Linked DNA regions of Homo sapiens: region 2 is linked to region 1. The links come from fine-mapping of genetic effects on gene expression. Tissue or cell type: whole blood. Region 1 holds a variant in brackets; the other region holds the start of a gene. All regions are shown on one strand. Distances are from middle to middle.

Region 1 (8,099 bases):
CAATATGTTTGCATTCTTGGATGGCAACAAGTGGCTGGGGCTGAGTAACAACTGTGGCCTTTACAAGGTATCCCTGGGGCTTACCTATGCACCATTGAGGGAATTCTGGAAACCTCACCAATCCCTATTGTCTCCCAGGTCTGAGGCCCAGATGAGTGAATGGCCTTTTTATCACTTAGGCTGGCCCTTGCCTTCTTATTTTACTTCTTGTCAGCTTCATGTGTTTGGCCATTTTTGTTCCTGTCTACCCCTTCCTGCAGATACTTCAATTTGTTATAACAAACTCAAGTCAAAATTCCTTGACCTGGTATTTGTGTCCCTTCAGACTCCCTTCACACATGGTTCCCCTCCATATCCCAGTCAACTCCTCCCCTCCAACACTCTTCCTGCAGGTACATCACACTTGCCATGCTTCCCCAGGCTGCAGCTGGACTTTCACACTCCCATCTTTGCACACACTGCTCCTTCTTCCTGGAGCACCACTTCTCTTCCTTCTCTGGTGAACTTTTAAACTTTTTTAGAGATGGAGTCTCAGTCTGTCACCCAGGCTGGAGTGCAGTGGCACAATCATAGCTCACTGCAGCTTCCAACTCCTGGGCTCAAGCAATCTTTCTGCCTCAGCCTCCAGAGTAGGTAGGACTACAGACACGTACCACCACAGCTGGCTAATATTTTAATTTTTTTTTTTCAGAGATGGTATCTCACTGTGTTGCCTGGGCTGGTCCAGAACTTCAGGCCTCAAATAATCCTCCCTGGGGCCGAGCCTCCGGCCCTGGTGAACTTTTATTTTATTCCTCCCTCCAACCCCAGCCCAGAAGCCACTGACTCTGGGGCATCCTCCTGACCCCTGCAGAAGTCAGTTACCCTCAGGTTGTCCAATGGTCCCTGTGATTCCAGAATTCTCACAATGTATCCCCTCCCTATAGTGACAGCCCCTCCAGGGTTTTGAGGAGGCCTGCTCTCGGCACCCCAAGGCTCACTGTGCTGAGGAGTCAGGCCATCGGACTGGTGGCAGTGACGGTTAGGGGAAGGAGGCGTAGTTCAGTCCTGCAGGAGCTGGCCTCTGAGACAAACACAGGTTTGTCGGAGTCAGCAAGGCTACAAGAGAGGGAGGCAGCGGGCACCTTCTGTGCCACAAGGTGAGGTTTTCTGGGTCCTGGGCAGCACGGCTGTCTGTGTCACCAGCGGACCGGGGTGAGTGGCTTCCTGTACCAGGGCAGTCAGGTGCTCTCTGCTACCCTGTGAGTATTCTAGTGAGCAGAAATCCAGAAGAAAAAAAGAGGAGCAAAACATCAGAACTCAGGGTGCTAGGCAAAAGTGTTCTTATGAGAAAAATGCGACAGATTATTTGAGACTCTGATAGCCTGGGGGTGATCCATAAACATTCCCGAACTCCTCCAATGCCCCCCAGCACTGTCATCAGACATCTTCACCCTCTGAAGCCCATGCTGCTGGAGACCCCAGGAAATGGCCTTGATACCAACCTCCCATCCCCAGCCCACACTCCCTCTTCCTGGCCTAACCATTCTCCCACCCGCAGGTGTTGCTTCCCAGACTGTGGAATCAAATCCTCTGGATGCACCCAAGAAGCAGGTACTGGGTCCCCATTTAACAGATGAGGACACGGCTCTGAGCGCTGCCCGAGGTTCCCCAGCCGACGATAACTCCAGCCCGCCGGGCCCGAAGAGCAGAGTCCTGCCTCCTCCCCACCGGCTTCAGCCTCGGGCCTCGGCTCTGCTCCTCCCTCCTACACACACCCCGGACGCGTCTGTCCAGGTCCGAAATCCAGATCCACACGTCCGTATCCCGAGGCGGGCGTGAACTATCCACCCGTGTGCACGCCAGCCGAGCGAGTGGCCGAGGGACACCCCCGTGCTTCCCAAGGCCTGGCTCCACGAGGAGCAGAACCCCAGCGGTGGGATTCTGTCGCGCAATGCTGTGTGGCTCCGACTAGGGCCCGCCCTCCAGCAAAGAGATGCTGGTGGGTGCTCTCGGTTCACCCCCGCACTCGCCCCAGGGGGGCTCGCGGGCCACCTGGAGCTCCCGCCCCTCGGTGGCCAGGGCTGCGCGTGAAAGGGGGACGTTCGGACGCGGGGGCGCGGAGCCAGCGCGCGAGCCTCGGAGCCTCCCCCAGGCTGTGGGGGAAGAGGAGGGAGGAGGGAGCAGATGGCAGCAATTACCGCTCGGACCCTCCCCCGCCGTAGCCTGGGGCCGGAAGATCGGCTCGGCAGCTCGCTCCTGCGGGAGGGGCGGCGGCCTCCCCGGCCGGGAACCGGCGGGGAGGGGGTCCGGGAGGGGCGGCTCTGGCCGCCGGGGCGCGGGCATCCCAGCTTCTAGGGGAGAGTGATGTGAGGGCCCGGTGGAGACACCTCCTTCTCCCGGGACGAGGGCTGAGAGATTCCCTTTGGAAAGGCCGAGTCTCCGGCCGCCCCCACCCCCAGAGTTGTTTCAGGCCAGGGCCGGCCGCAACCAGCTCCGGGCCTTTAGGTCCTCAAAGTTCCGAAGATTTTCAGGTCGAGCCAGTGGCCCAGGCTAGGGAGAGGGGAGCTGTACGGTTGTGCAGGTTGTGACCTATACAAGGTGGGAGGCGTGGTTGTGGGTGAGTGGGATTCCAAGCTCGGCCTTGGCAGGTGCTGACTCGTTCTGAAGGAGGGCAGGGGGCACCGTTTCTCACAAAGGTCTCGGATGAGCCAGCCTGGCCTGCCCTTGATTTAGGGCTGCTGAGGGTAGACACAGTGGGAGAGCAAATGGCTAGGGTTGGCCCCTGTGGGTCAGGGCCAGGGCTAAAGAGGACAGGGGGACTCTCCTGGCCCAGAGTAGAAACAACTGGATCATCTGGGCTCCCTGGGCCTTTCTTTCTTCTTGAATTCCTCTCCCACCCTCACCCTGAATCTTGTTCCTCTGTCTCTAACATAGTTCCTAAAACAGCCCCTGCCCCTGCCCCCACTCAACTGCCCAAGCTCCTGTTACTTCCCTGCACAATCGAAAAGACTCCTGTCCGCTCTCCCAGGGTCCCCAACAATCAGTTCACACTGCAGGCAAAGAGACCTTTAAAAATACAAATCAGGAAAACACCAGGGCATGTGATTCCTCGCTTAACAGCCACCCACAGCTTCCCTGCAAAGGAAGCCCAAACCTTTTCCCCCAGCCCCTACCTACACAGACAGACCTCTCTTCCTATCCTTCTCCCCACTGCCCAGACACTGCTTACACTGGCTGCCTTTCTGTTCATTGAACTTGATAAGCTTTCCCCCACCTCTGGCCTTGGCTTTGCTGGTGCTTTTCCTGGATCGCTCTGCCCAGATCCTTCCCAGGAACGTCACCTTCCCATCATCCCTGACCACAATAATAAAGCAGCCCCATCTGCCTGATCCAGTCTGTCACTTAACCTTATATATTTCTTCCACTGAACTCACCACATTCTGTAATTATCTTTCTTATTCACTTGGTTTGTGGTCTGTTTCACTTACCAGAATGTCAGCTTCATGAACGCGGGGACCTTGTCTTTCTTGTTCTCTAGCACAATGCCTGGTGCAAACCAAGAAGCACTCAGTACATGCTCCATACATTCCAGGAAAGGAGTCCCTGGGACCAAACTGGATGCTAGTTCATCTGGTCACCTCCGAGAGGGCTTCTCTCTGGGTGGGGCCAGCTACAAACACCTGTACTCACCTGGTACCCACCTAGATGCTTTGCACACATGGGCAGACCCATGGCTTACTATAACAATAATCTTGGCTGACAGCTAATCAGCTGACTGTGCCAGACATCATTCTAAGTCCTTTACATAGTTTAGTTTAATTTAACTCATTCCATCCTCCTGTGAAGTAGACACTAATAGCCTCAGTTTACAAGTAGATATACCACACACACAGATCCACACCACAACACACAGGCAGCATAAGCATTGAATTCATTATTACTATCCAACAGATAGATGAGTGGGGTAAAGAAATCAGGGTGAGCCTGGGACATTTAATAACTACTGTGGGAAGATGGGAAGAACACCAGGGAAAGCTCAGCATGGGGGTCAGGCACAGGGCCAGCTGGGCAAGTGGTAGAAGAGGAAGTTGAGCCTCAGCCCACGCCCATATTCTGAGTCCCCACAGCACTTGGAGTGGTGCGGAGGGTGGTTCCTGGTTCAGTTCTGCTACCCACCAGAGGGGTGATCTTGCCCACCAGAGGGCAACCGTTTACCCTCTTGAGACCACATTAGCAAAATGGTGGGGGAGGCGTACATAATACCTGTCTCCCAGGGACCCCACCAGGATCAAACTCCAAAATGCTCATGAAAGCCGTGTAGGGCTTGCTGATGAAAGGGTGCAGGTTGCCAGCCGGGAAAACTGGGGCTGGAGCTATGCTTTGGCTCTTCTGGAACCATAGCTCACTGCTGTATGACCCTCCAGAGTGGGGGGCTGGTGGAGGGGCTGGGTCTCACCAACCATTGCCCCCTCTGTACCTGGCCTGGTGCTCATCTAGAACTCCATAGGTATTTGTGGAGTGAATGCCTGCGTGAGGGAAGGACCAGGGCATAGGTAAGAGGAGGAGAATGAATACATGAGTGAGAGGCAGAGTGAATGAAGCAGGGACTGGAGACGCCCTCTGCCTCTGAGCCTCAGTTTCTTCATCTGTGAAAGCCAGTGGTGGGGCTTGGCCCACTTCTGTCTCTGGGCTCCAGTGTGAATCAGACAAGATGGGGCCACTCCATGGAAGCCCCTCCTTGCTATCTATGCAGGGCCCCCAGGGTGGACGGGGGGAGCTGAAGTGACCAGTGTTCCCCTCCCCCCATCCCTGTCCCCCGGAATTTATAGATTCCTCATTGTCCTGCACAAAGGCCTTCTTGA[G/A]GAGGGGGCGGGGTGATGGAGGAGACGGGAGAATTAGAAAGGCGGAAGCTGAGCAACAGCCAGCCACACCCAAGGCCCCATAAATCTGCCCAGGCCCCTGTAAGATGGACTCGCTTTGCCGCACTTGAAGCGGCTTGCAGGGCTCCTGCTGCTGGGATCAGCTCACCTTCCTCACAGCTCTGGATCCTCAGCAAGATGGGGGGTGGAGCTGCGGGGGGCATGAAGACAAGACCTGGTGGTCAGGGAGGGGTGACTCACCTTGCGTTATACCTCTGACCTCAGAAAGTCCTTAATCTTGTTCCTGTGCTGCCCCCTGTAATTCTAGTCCACAGCTGTTGGTTCTGAGCTGAAAAATGAGCTTTTTGTGGGTACTCTGAGTCTTTTTGTGGGAGTGGGCCTGAAGGCTCAGACTCTAAGAAAATGGCCTCCTCCCCCACGCTGGCCTCTGGGTAGTGGGTGGGAGGCTGAGGGTGGAATTGACAGATGGTGCGGTGTTTAACAGATGACGGGAAACAAAATTACTCAGCTGCCGTGTCTCTCCATCTTCCCCATGGAAGGAGATGGCCTTCGGACTGGAAACAGACAATGACCTCAATCAGGAGGCTGTCAGAGGACAGGGAAAGAGAGAAGCGACGGGGTATTAGGGGTATTAGGGCACCATGAACAGGTGTACAAAAGACCTGACTCAGAATCCCATCCCTGCCACACACCAGCTGGGTGATCTTCAGCAGATCTCACAGAGTCTCTGTTTTCTCATCTGTAAGATGGGTCAATGAAAAACCCTGCCTTATCTTCCTCACTGGCTTTTATGAAGATTATATGGATTCTGTGTTTGAAAGATGGGCTTTAAAGACTTGCGAAGGTGTAAAGATGTAAGAGGTTATCTACTGGAAACTCTAAGTGCCGGCCCACTAGTTGTTGACGGAATCATTTTAAAAACTTTTTTTTTCCTTACAACAAAACAGAATAGAGTAGAAAACATAACAGTGCTTTACAGTTTCAGGAAACGCTGCTTGTAGTTACATGTGCATTCATGTGTCCTGGGTCCAGAAGTAAATGTATTTACTGTGGATGACGGTCAAAAAAGTGAAATACTCAGAGTAGAGAATATTCTTCAGTGATATCTCCAGAAGGGAATGGTGGATGAATGGAAACTGACAACATGAAATATATCAGGCTAAACATAAATGTAAAAATTTTTGTAAACAAAAATGTACACTGGCTCTGAGCAGCTCAGTGTAACTGCGGTTGGTGGTGATGGGTGGAAGGGCTTACGTAGGACTTAACTGACTGCCCTTTTGGTGGGCAATGAAGCTCTCTCTGCTGTGTAAGACACCTTGAGCCTGATTCCTGAGAATGCTGTCCCTGAACGCCCACTAGGCAATGACCGTGGCTCCCTCACCGTGGCCCTGAGCTGTGCCAGAGGGAATGGGTTATTTAGCGAGAACCTTGAACTCATGTGCCCAGGCCTCCCCTCCAGTCCACTAGGAGTGCAGAAGGATTTGCAACAGGTATGCTGTAGTGGTGGTCAGGACACCCCTGCCTGAACTTCACCCATGACCCTTGTCCTCACCCCCACCCAAGGGGTCATAGTCCAGTGAGGGTGAGCTGGTCAGAGTGGACCCTAAATCAATCCCAGACCTTCCTGGCTGGCTCTGAGTTACAAGCTGTGGGCTTTGTGATGCAGATCATGATTCGGGAGTAGGGGGCATGACCTATGGCAGGTCACACAGGACCCCTAGAAAGGGCCAGAGCTGGGGTCAGAGGCCACCTCCTCCATTCTCTGCCCTGCTCTGCTGGGTCCCATCCTGCATCTACCTAGTCCTTCAGCTGGGCTGGGCCATTTCCCCACTGACTGCCGGCTCCAGCTGTAACTGCCACCAAGCCTGGAGGCTGGGAGGAGAGGGGCTTCTGCTGGAAAAAGATCCCAGAAGAAAAGAAAGGGATGAGATGACACAGTATTTTGTTCCCAAACCAGACTCAAAAGTTTCCTGAGTTCCTTCTCTGTAGATTTGCCCCTGCACCGCCCCCCCGCCCCCCGCCCCACCACCTTCTCTTCTGATTGAATTCCGCAAGTCAAGACTCTGGGCAAAAATCCAGCCCAAAGGATTAGATGGCTGGAGATTACGCACGGCAGTCAGAGAGCAAGTTAGGGAGCAAGCAGTGTATGTTATCAGGGCTTAAGAGAGAGCATCAGAGGGAGAGAGAGATGGAAAGAGCCAGATGGCGAGATGAGAAAGATCAAGCTGAAGAAAAGGGGATGACAGGCAGACAGAAAGAGGAGTACCAGCAGAAGACACTGAAGAGAGTGATTGAGAAATAGGAGCGGCAGGCAAAGGAACATCCTTGTGAACTCCTGTCAGACCCCAGCGGCTGAGAGGTCCAAAGGAGGTTAATCCATAAAGGGCCTTTGCTTTTAATCCTTAAGACCACCAGCCTGAGACTGCAGAAGGCCCTGGCTGAAGTGTACCTGTGTCATCCAGGAGCTATCCATTATTTTACACATTAACCAACAACTCCATGCCCCACTACCACAATCATTTCTATCAACAAAGGCATACACAGAGAGGGTCAAGACCAGGCCTGGGGAACTTGGCAGGGGCTGGGAAGGGATCCCTATTGAGTCCTCTTGAGGAGGGAGGCCTGGACAGGGCACTTCAAGACAGGGCATCAATGCAGGTAGAAGGTAGAAGAATCCTCACACTTGGCCATGTGCTGTGGCTCACACCTGTAATCACAGCACTTTGGGAGGCTGAGATGGGCGGATCACCCGAGGTCAGGAGTTCAAGACCAGCCTAGCCAACATGGTAAAACCGCGTCTCTACTAAAAATACAAAAATTAGCCAGGTTTGGTGGCACATGCCTATAGTCCCAGCTGCTCGGGAGGCTGAGACAGAAAAGAATCGCTTGAACCTTGGAGGCAGAGGTTGCCGTGAGCCAAGATGGCGTCACTGCACTCCAGCCTGGGCTACAAGAATGAAACTCTGTCTCAAAAAAAAGAAAAAAAAAATACAAAAGTAAGCCGGGTGTGGTGGCTCACATCTGTAATCCCGGGTACTCAGGTGGCTGAGGCAGGAAAATTGCTTGAACCTGGGAGGCAGAGGTTGCAGTGAGCCGAGATCGCGCCACTGCACTGCAGCCTGGGCAACGGAGCAAGACTCCTGAAAAAAAAAAATCCTCACACTTGGGGTACCCATCCAGGTTGGCTAAAGCTGATATACAGAAATAACTACAGAAATAACTCCCTTTCCTTTG
Region 2 (8,084 bases), 22 kb before region 1:
CGGTCCTACTGCAAGTAATATGGCCATGGAGTGAGCACTGAGTGGGGAGGTCAGGAAACCCAGGCTGCAGGCATGACTCTGTCCTCAGCACATCAGAGAGGGATGGACTGGGGTGAGGGTTTCTTGACATAAGGTCCCCATGGGCTTCAGGGGATCCAAGAATCCTCTAAAGCAGAATGCAAAGTCTGGTGTCAATTAACGGAAGTGCATTTTTCTGGGGATGGCTTTCATCAGTGTCTCCAAGGGCTCTGTAAATCAAAAAAAGTTATGGATACCCAGAATGGGTAATCTTGGAGGCTCCTTCCATGCCCTAGTATTCCTGGGTTATATATGGGTTTAAACGTGAAGTACACTCCCCATCCTTCAAGGCCAATTCAGTGGCTGCTCTGGGAAGCTCTAACAGATTTCTTGCTTCTTTGACTGCAGGGAAAGGCTGGGAGCCCAACACCACAGAGCCTGGCAGGGTCCCTCTGCCCTGATCTCCCTCACCAGACAGCCAGCTCCCAAAAGGGGGCAGGACCAGCCCAAGGCTAAGGTAGCAGATGCCAGCACCCCATACTTGACCTCTTGTGGCTCACCGCCCCCCCCCCACAGTCTCTGTCCCCTGAAGGGGGTCTCAGGGCTGCAGAGCACAGGGGCACTGGGGCCTGGAGTCCACATCTCCCTGCTGCAGCCCTGGAGCTTTGCAGAGCCATGCTCCTTCCAGGAACCTGGTTTTCATTAAATCGGGTAAAGGAGTCGATAACCGCCAAGTCCAGGAGAGGCAAAGTTCTGCTAGAAGGCACAGGGAAGGTGAGGGAGACCAGCCTGTCTCTTGCCCTCCCTGGCTGACCGACGGCAGGGGGAGGGGAAGGCAGGGCTCCTAAGGGTCCAGCAATGGCAGCAGTCGGAGCTTGGGGGGAGAGTCGGGGGAGTCCTGGCCCAGATAATAAGCAATTGTTAATGTGATCCATATGGATCCTGACTGGCCTCTCTGTTTAACAGAATGATAATGGCAGGGAAAGAATGCTGGTCTGTGGGGAAGGGAAGGGGCAAAGTCCTCCCCGGACTTGGGGGGGTGGGGTAGGGTCATGGGGAGGAGAAGGAGGCAAATAAGGGAAAGGGAGAGGAGGAGCCCCACCCAGGGGTCTCCACCACCCAAGAGCACAGAGCTGTTTACCTGAAGGTGGCCAGATTCCATGCTATGCAGACTGCCTGGCTAAAGGCCCTTACAAAACCCCTTTTATTCAGCCAACCAATATTTATGGAGCACCCACAAGGTGTCAAGCCCTGTGGCAAGCCCACTGGGGGCAGGGCCAGGGAGTACATGCTCCATTTCAGTCAAAGCCCTGAGTGGACCCCGCCACAAAGGCGGAAGGGAGCACAGGTGCAGGCCACGGAGGGAGGAGCAAGTGACAGAAGCTCGGGGCTGGGGAGGTGATGCGGAGGAGGTGCGCATCCGAGTTGGGCCCTGAAGAATAAGGAGGTTGTGGAAAGACAGGGACAATGAGGAAGGCATTTGGCTGGAGGAACAGCGGGAGCAAAGGCAGAGAGGCGTGAAATTGCGTGGAGAGAGCCCTAGATCTCAGCAATAAAGCTGCGGCCCAGGCAGGGCAGGGAGGGGAGTCCTGATCCATAAAAAGCTGTGGCCATGGGTGAGCAGAAGAAAGGCAGGAAAGGGCTCTGCGACGCCACACTCAGTCTGGGTGGCTCTCCCCAGCCTTCGCCCAGGCTGGTACTGGAATTGACAGTTACGGGATCCTCAGCCCAGCCCTCAGCCATACCACGGCCAGAGAATCGGGCAGGGCCTCCGAAGCCAAACTCATTTCTGTGTCTCTCAGCCCCTTCTGTTTCTTCTTCTGGGGCGGGGGTGGGGGCAACAGGAATCCCCCCGAGGAATGCGGGTCCTCTAGGCCTCCCCAGGAGCAACTCCTCTGCCCCACACAGCCTAATTCCCTTTGGCCCAAAAGGGCTTCGCCCAGAAGATATTACAGCGAGGACACGAGGGTCGCTCCCGTCTGCCTTGGATGCCAATGGAATCAAGTGGAAAGAAATGAAATGGTGTTAAACATGGGAAAGGGGATTTACGAGGCCTGTCACCCGTCCAGCCCAGCCACCCCAGCAAGCCCCGCCCCTTTCCTCGCCCACCCCAGGAAGTCCCGCCCCGCCCCCTGCCCGCAGCTCGCGCGGCCGCCCGGTACCCGCGTCCCACAGCTGGGTGGCGGCGGCACCACAGCACCGGGCAGCCCGGCGCGCCCGTCCTTGGGGGCTCAGGCACAGCGGGGAATGGCGTCGGTTCCGGACTGAGAGGCTCGGGGAGGCTTTAGGAGGATGCTATGGGATTTCGGGGTAGGCTCCGGGAGGGTCTGGGACTCCCTCTGCAGGGTCAGAGGGTTTCGCACCGTGGCATCTGCGGGCCCAGCCCACTCCAGAGACTGGGCGGCTCCACAGGGGAGGCCCCACGGCCCAGGAACCGGGAAGCCCACCTGCGCCGTAAGCCCAGAGTTGGGCTGGAACCGGGTCCCCACTCCTCGCTGCCGGGCGGAAAGCAGGAGACCGCTCCGCCGCCACAGCCCGTGCGGACAACACAAACATTCTTCAGTCCTCTATTCTCCTCCAAATTAGGTATCCATGGAGACAGGGCCGGCAGCCTGACAGCCCTACGGCCTAATCCTGATTTAGTGACCGTCCCTTTAACAGCCCACCCACCCGTCCACCCACCCCTGCGCTCCGGGCCGCCGCTGGGCGCAGGGTCCAGGCCGCGCGCTCTCTGCCCCGCGCAGACCCCTTCCCAGGCCTCCTCCTCTGGCGGGGGCAGGGGGACCAGCGGGGCTGGGGAAGGGCACCAGCATTTGCTGATCACCTACAGGGTGCTCAGCAATCTGCGAAGGACCCTCTGCAGCGGCGGGGGGGTTGCTAGCATGCGAATCTCTGTGTAGAACAGGAGAGGGCTCTTGCGGTGGGGAAGTTTGAGGGGCCCTCTCTGGAGAGCTGGGCGCTCCGGGGGTCCCCCTTGTTGCCTGTAGCCCCAGGGTGAAGGTGAGTACAGCCTCCTACAACCCCCTGACTCTGAGACGCGGGCTCTGTTCTCCCGGGCCAGAGGAGAAGACATGAAGAGGGTGGGTGTTAGGGGCGCGGGGACCCTAAGTAGCCTCGGCCTCCTGTCACTGCCCCGTCACCATGCTGGGGAATCTCCGGGCCAGTAACCCAGCCCCCACCCCTCCCACACACACACACAGGGGCCGCTGGACAAAGACCTGACGGAGTGGGAGGGGCCTGCGGGCCGGCCCTCGGGCTCCGGACGCTGGATCCTTCTGGGACCCGAACCCGCAAACCTTGGCTCCCCACCCCCAGGCCAGCAGACGCCCCCGAGCCGGCTGCTCGCTTTCGCTGCAGCCCCCGCACCAGAGGGGGCTGCGAGACGGGTGCCCGTCGGCGGCCGGGCGGCTATCCCCTGCTCTGCCCGCCCCCTCCCCCCGAGAAGTGACCCTCGGCTCCCACGTACCCGCTAGGGTCTCTCGCCGGCCCTGCCCTCCGACCCCCGCCGAGCTGAACCCCGCGACTAGCAGCCCCCGCCCTCTCGGCCCTCTCCGGCCCCGGGCCGGCGGACAAAGCTCCGGACACCCTGACCGAACGGTCACCTCCCCCCGCCCCATCCCGGCCCGCCCGCGGCCCCGTACCTCGGCATCACGGCCGGGTCCTAGGTGAGTGTGCGCGGCCTGGGGGCGCGTCCGGCCCGGGGACCGGGGCGGCGGCGCGGGCCGGGGGCGACAGGCCTGGGCTGGGGGGCAGTGGCGCTCACCATCCTGGAGCCGCTGCTGCTGCGGCTGCTGCGGCCGCCGCGGGCGGGAGCGGGACTGGGCAGTGGGGGTGGCCGGACAAGGGGCGGCCCCGGCTCCCCCCGCAGGAAAGACCCCCACCCCCACCCCCGCCTCCCCTCGCCCGCCCCCAGGGCCCTCCCTCGCAGGCCCTCCCTCCCCTCCCCTTTCCCTGCTCCTCCCTCTCCTAGTGCCCCTCTCTTCCCCCAGCTCCCGCCCCTTCTCTGGCCCCTCCACCCCCGGCTTCTTCCCCGCCCTCCCCCACCTCGCCCCCGCCCCGCCCCCACCTCCCCTGGGCTCGCCCAGCCCCTCCTTGCCACCCTCCCGGCTGGCCCCGCCCCCTCCCGCCCCTGGCTCTAAAATAAATTAGCCACAGAGGGGAAAAAAGAGCAAGTGACCCTCGGTGTGGAGAGTGTCCTTCGCCACTCTCAGACCCGTCCGCCCCGCCTCTCCCGGCCGTCGGAGCGGGAAGCTGGGGTTGGGGTGGGGGTCGGGCCGGCGGGTAGGGGTGGGGGACGGCATGGGGACGGGGCCGAGGCCGGGACTGAGCAGCCCAGCCCGTCGAGCGTGTCCGCTGGATGTGGGCGGCTTCCTGGGTCGAAGGGCAAAGGGGAAGGCAGCCGGCCTGGGCCCGCCCCGTCCGCGGGCCGCCCCAGACCCCCTTTCCCAGGACTGCCTTGGCCCCCTGGCCCCAGTCTGGAGGACTCTTGCTCACTTCCTCCGCCCCCAGGTGAGCTGAGAACCCACTGCGCGCGGGACTCTGCTGCGCCTGCCCTCCCGGGCTGCAGAGGGCAGGACGCACCGCCAGGCAAGGCCGCGGCTCTGCGCTGATGCCACTCCGGGAGCGGGTGGCTGCGGGGGAGGAGGGCGAGCACTGGACGGGGGCAGCGGAGTGTAGGGTGTGAGATCTAAACAGAGGGCTCCACTGGAGGGCTTGCCCAGAAGGCGGCAGTCACACTGGGCCAAGCAGGATGACTGGCAGGAAGAAAAGATGAGGGATGAATCCCAGACCTCTAGTCCACTGAGAGTGTCCAAAGACATCCGTTCAATAGATACATACTGAGTGTTAACTTTGTGCCAAACATTGGACTGTGCACCAGGGATACCCAAGAGAGTCCAAGAGGCACAGCCCTGTCTTCCTGGAGCTCCCAGTCGAAGGGTAGACAGAATTCTGCCCGACACACACACACTCAAGGCTTCATCAGGGATAAAGGCCAGGAACCGGCTTTGCCCCAGGAGAAGGTAGGAGGAGGGCTGTGCTGATGATGGAGGGTCCAGAGAACCTTCCTGCTGTTGAGCCTCCAGATGTCCCAAGGCAATCCTGTTTCCACCCAAGGGCAGTGCTTAAGGGTCCTCTCTCCTGAGAGCTTGTTTCCCTTTTGAGTGGCTGCCTAGCCTGAGTGTCAGTAGGGCAAGATTGGCCCTCACCCACTAGCCTGTAGAACTCCAAACACTACCCCCTCCCTTCTTCTAATGCAGATTCCCCTGCAGGCTCTGGGGTCTGACAGGTCTGGGGCACTCCTTTAGGTGCCACTCAGGGAAACAGAAGGGGAGGGCCTCAGTAGCTCCCACTTCTTTTCCAGCCCACATTTGGAAGCAACCGGCACCCACGCAGGTTCTGGAACTTGCCAAGGTCAGTGTCTTTTCCACCTCCAGAATTATCTCTTCCTTGCCACTCCCCACCCCCAGGGCTCTGCCCTGGCACAGGAGGAGGGACGTGTCAAGGCTCAGAGTGCTAGAGTAGCCCCTGGCTTCAGAATCAGGCAGGATGAAGGGAGCCACAACCACCATGCTAGGAGACTGGAACCCTTGCTGGAGGAACAATCCCAGGATACCAGCTGGAAGGAACTCCTTGGCTATTTCCTTATTGTTGGAGCACTGGAGGCCCAGAGAGGAGAAGTGACACACTTGGGGTCACACAGCAAAGCTGGATCTAGAATCCACTGCACTTTTTCCACCCCTACCTGTCAGGTTCCCTGACAGCCAGAGACAGGAACTAAGGGAAAGACTAATATCCTTATGAGCTGGGTGCCTCAGCCAGCAGGATTAGTGCCAGGAAGCCAAGTCTGGCATTGCCAATGGGGATCCTGCTCCACCATGCTCCAGGGAAGGGGGGATGACAGGAGTGGGGTTGGACTGAGGCGCTCAGTGTGAAGGAAGGAATTGATCATGCGCTCCCCTGGAGCGGGGATCCGGTTCTCCTTCATCCTCTAGGAGTCCGGGAGTAAAGGAAGGACAAGCTTAAAGCTAAGGAAGGCCTTGCTAGTGAGATAGTGGAAGACACCAGCCTGCTGGATAAGGCCTTCGCTGGACTCCAGGGGCAAGACCAGCAGCTTGGCAGTACTGAGTTGTTTCCAATGGGCGGACTGCTGTGGGTGATATTAAGAGGTTTAGTTAGCAGGTGGGGGTGAGGTTGATCATTTCACCCCTCCACCTCCCACCCTGCACCAGTGCTCAGGGCGATGAAGTGTGGCTCCCCCTCCCAGAGCTCATTAAAGTCCTGTTAATACATCATCCAGCCTCCTGGGCTGACAAATACTCTGTTCATCACATCTCTACCTCCTGCCCTCTTGGGCAGGGCCCGAGAGACTGATCTCTGAGGACTCTGGGGTGACCTCACTCCTGGCTGTCCCCAGTCAAGGGATCTGTGCCCTGAGAGCCCCTGCTGAGGTGGCTGTGATCATCCCCAGGCAGGTCAAGTGCCTGGCAATGGATTGGATAATAATAGTGGTAATGATGGTGGTAATGTGTGGCTTCTGCAGAGGGCCCTCCATTCTTTCCCAGATCTTTTGCTAGTATCACACCCAAGGTGGAGAATCCCACCCCCATCCTGCCCCCAGGGGAGACAGGTGCTATGCTTGGTTGTGTGGCTGAGTGCAGGCACCTGCTGCGGGCGCATGCATGTGGGTGTGCAGCAGAAGTGTGGGAGTGTGTGACCTTCCTGGTCCAGAGACCTGCAACAAGGGCTTTCTAAAAACATTAAGAAGAAAAATAACTCCGTGGGTCTAGGGAGAATCAGCTCAAAGGATTTTGGAGGGAGGGGGGAGAGTTAGAGGGAGGAAGTAAAAGCTAGAGAGAGAGGGCGGGAGGAGCAAGTAGGGTGAGGAGGAAGGAAAGAAAAGGGCCCCGGGTTGGGGGAAGGATGGGGTGGGGGGAGGAAGGGAGAAAGAAATGGAAGAGAGGAAGAGGAAAGGGCGGGGAGGCCTCTTTGTGGTCCTCTGGACTGGCCACTCAGGAGTCATTATGAGCAGGAAAGGAAGGAAATGTGTCCTGGCTTGGGGATTGGGGTGCGTGCCCAGAGGGCACCACACCCAGCTGGGCTTCCCCCCAACCACACTTGCCCGGGACTCAGGCTGCTGTCCCCACAAATGGAAACTCTAGCCCTTCTCATTCTTGCTCTTTGCCCATCAAGGCCCAGTTCCCAGTGCCTCCCCAACCCTGATCAAACCACCCCAAAAACTCTTACTCTTCATGAACGTATACCAGCTTTGCCTTCCCACTGTGCTACAAGCTGTGTCTAGTCTGGATCCTATCCCCACCCCACATCCAGCCTAGGAGCCCTCGAAAGCCTGTAGGCAAACTAGAAAACATGTTCCTCCCTCTATGCAGCTCAGACTTGGGAGGAGGAGCTGGGTGGCTATCAGTCTCCGCTAACTCCTTGGGGCCCAACACTTGGGGACGCTGATACCTCGCTTCCAAAATCGTTACCCCACACATGGCCCTGCTGTTTGTTCTTTGAGCAGAAGCACATCCTGCACCATCCTGCAGCATAGCTCTTCAGCCAGCACCCCAAATTGATCCCACCATGTACCTTACAGTCACACAGAAACTCCCACTAAACATGCATACCTTTTTAATACCTCAGAATCTTTCTGCCTGGAATCTCATTTCCCTACTCTGCCTGATGAGCTCCTATTCATCCTTCAGAACCCAACTCAGGTATGCCCTTCTCTGTAAAGTCTTCCCTATCTGTCCCGCATCCTAGCAGAGCACTTCCAATCTTTTTTTTCCCCTAGGTTCCAGGGGTTGAGCCCACTCCATCCTGTCCAAAGGCAGAAGCCTCCTCCAAGTCCTGCACGATCCGCCCTCTAACATGCAAGCCCATCTGGAACCTCTGGAATCCTACTGGGCTTCTTCGCTCCCTAAAGTTTACAGACCCAGGGCAAAATAGGGAACTGCAAATCCAAGTGGCCCAGAGGTCTCTCCACCCCCACTCTGCCCTCTCTGGGCCTGAGCCTGACAGGAGATTCCCAGCACATCTGGTTGTACTTAAATCATCCAGCACTA

Evidence for each region. PIP is the estimated chance that this variant, and not a neighbour inherited with it, causes the effect.
Region 2: FIGNL2 starts here. The variant in region 1 is fine-mapped to the expression of FIGNL2 in whole blood (TOPMed, PIP above 0.99). The same link has a PIP of 0.9 or more in blood mononuclear cells.

The regions. Positions count from the first base shown.
Region 1 is chr12:51,867,189-51,875,287 of GRCh38, forward strand. No RefSeq gene overlaps it. Among named protein-coding and RNA genes, the nearest start is that of ANKRD33, 17 kb to the right of the region's middle. RefSeq lists enhancers at 1,855-2,488, 2,489-3,120. The variant G/A (reference allele first, on the strand shown) is at 4,845.
Region 2 is chr12:51,844,881-51,852,964 of GRCh38, forward strand. It overlaps FIGNL2 (fidgetin like 2), which reads right to left and starts at 3,838. Exons shown (of 2, transcript NM_001384995.1): 1 at 3,660-3,838. FIGNL2-DT (FIGNL2 divergent transcript) reads left to right here and starts at 3,343. Exons shown (of 3, transcript NR_135803.1): 1 at 3,343-3,683; 2 at 5,381-5,430; 3 at 7,814-7,849. RefSeq lists enhancers at 34-744, 745-1,453, 2,164-2,872, 3,071-4,062.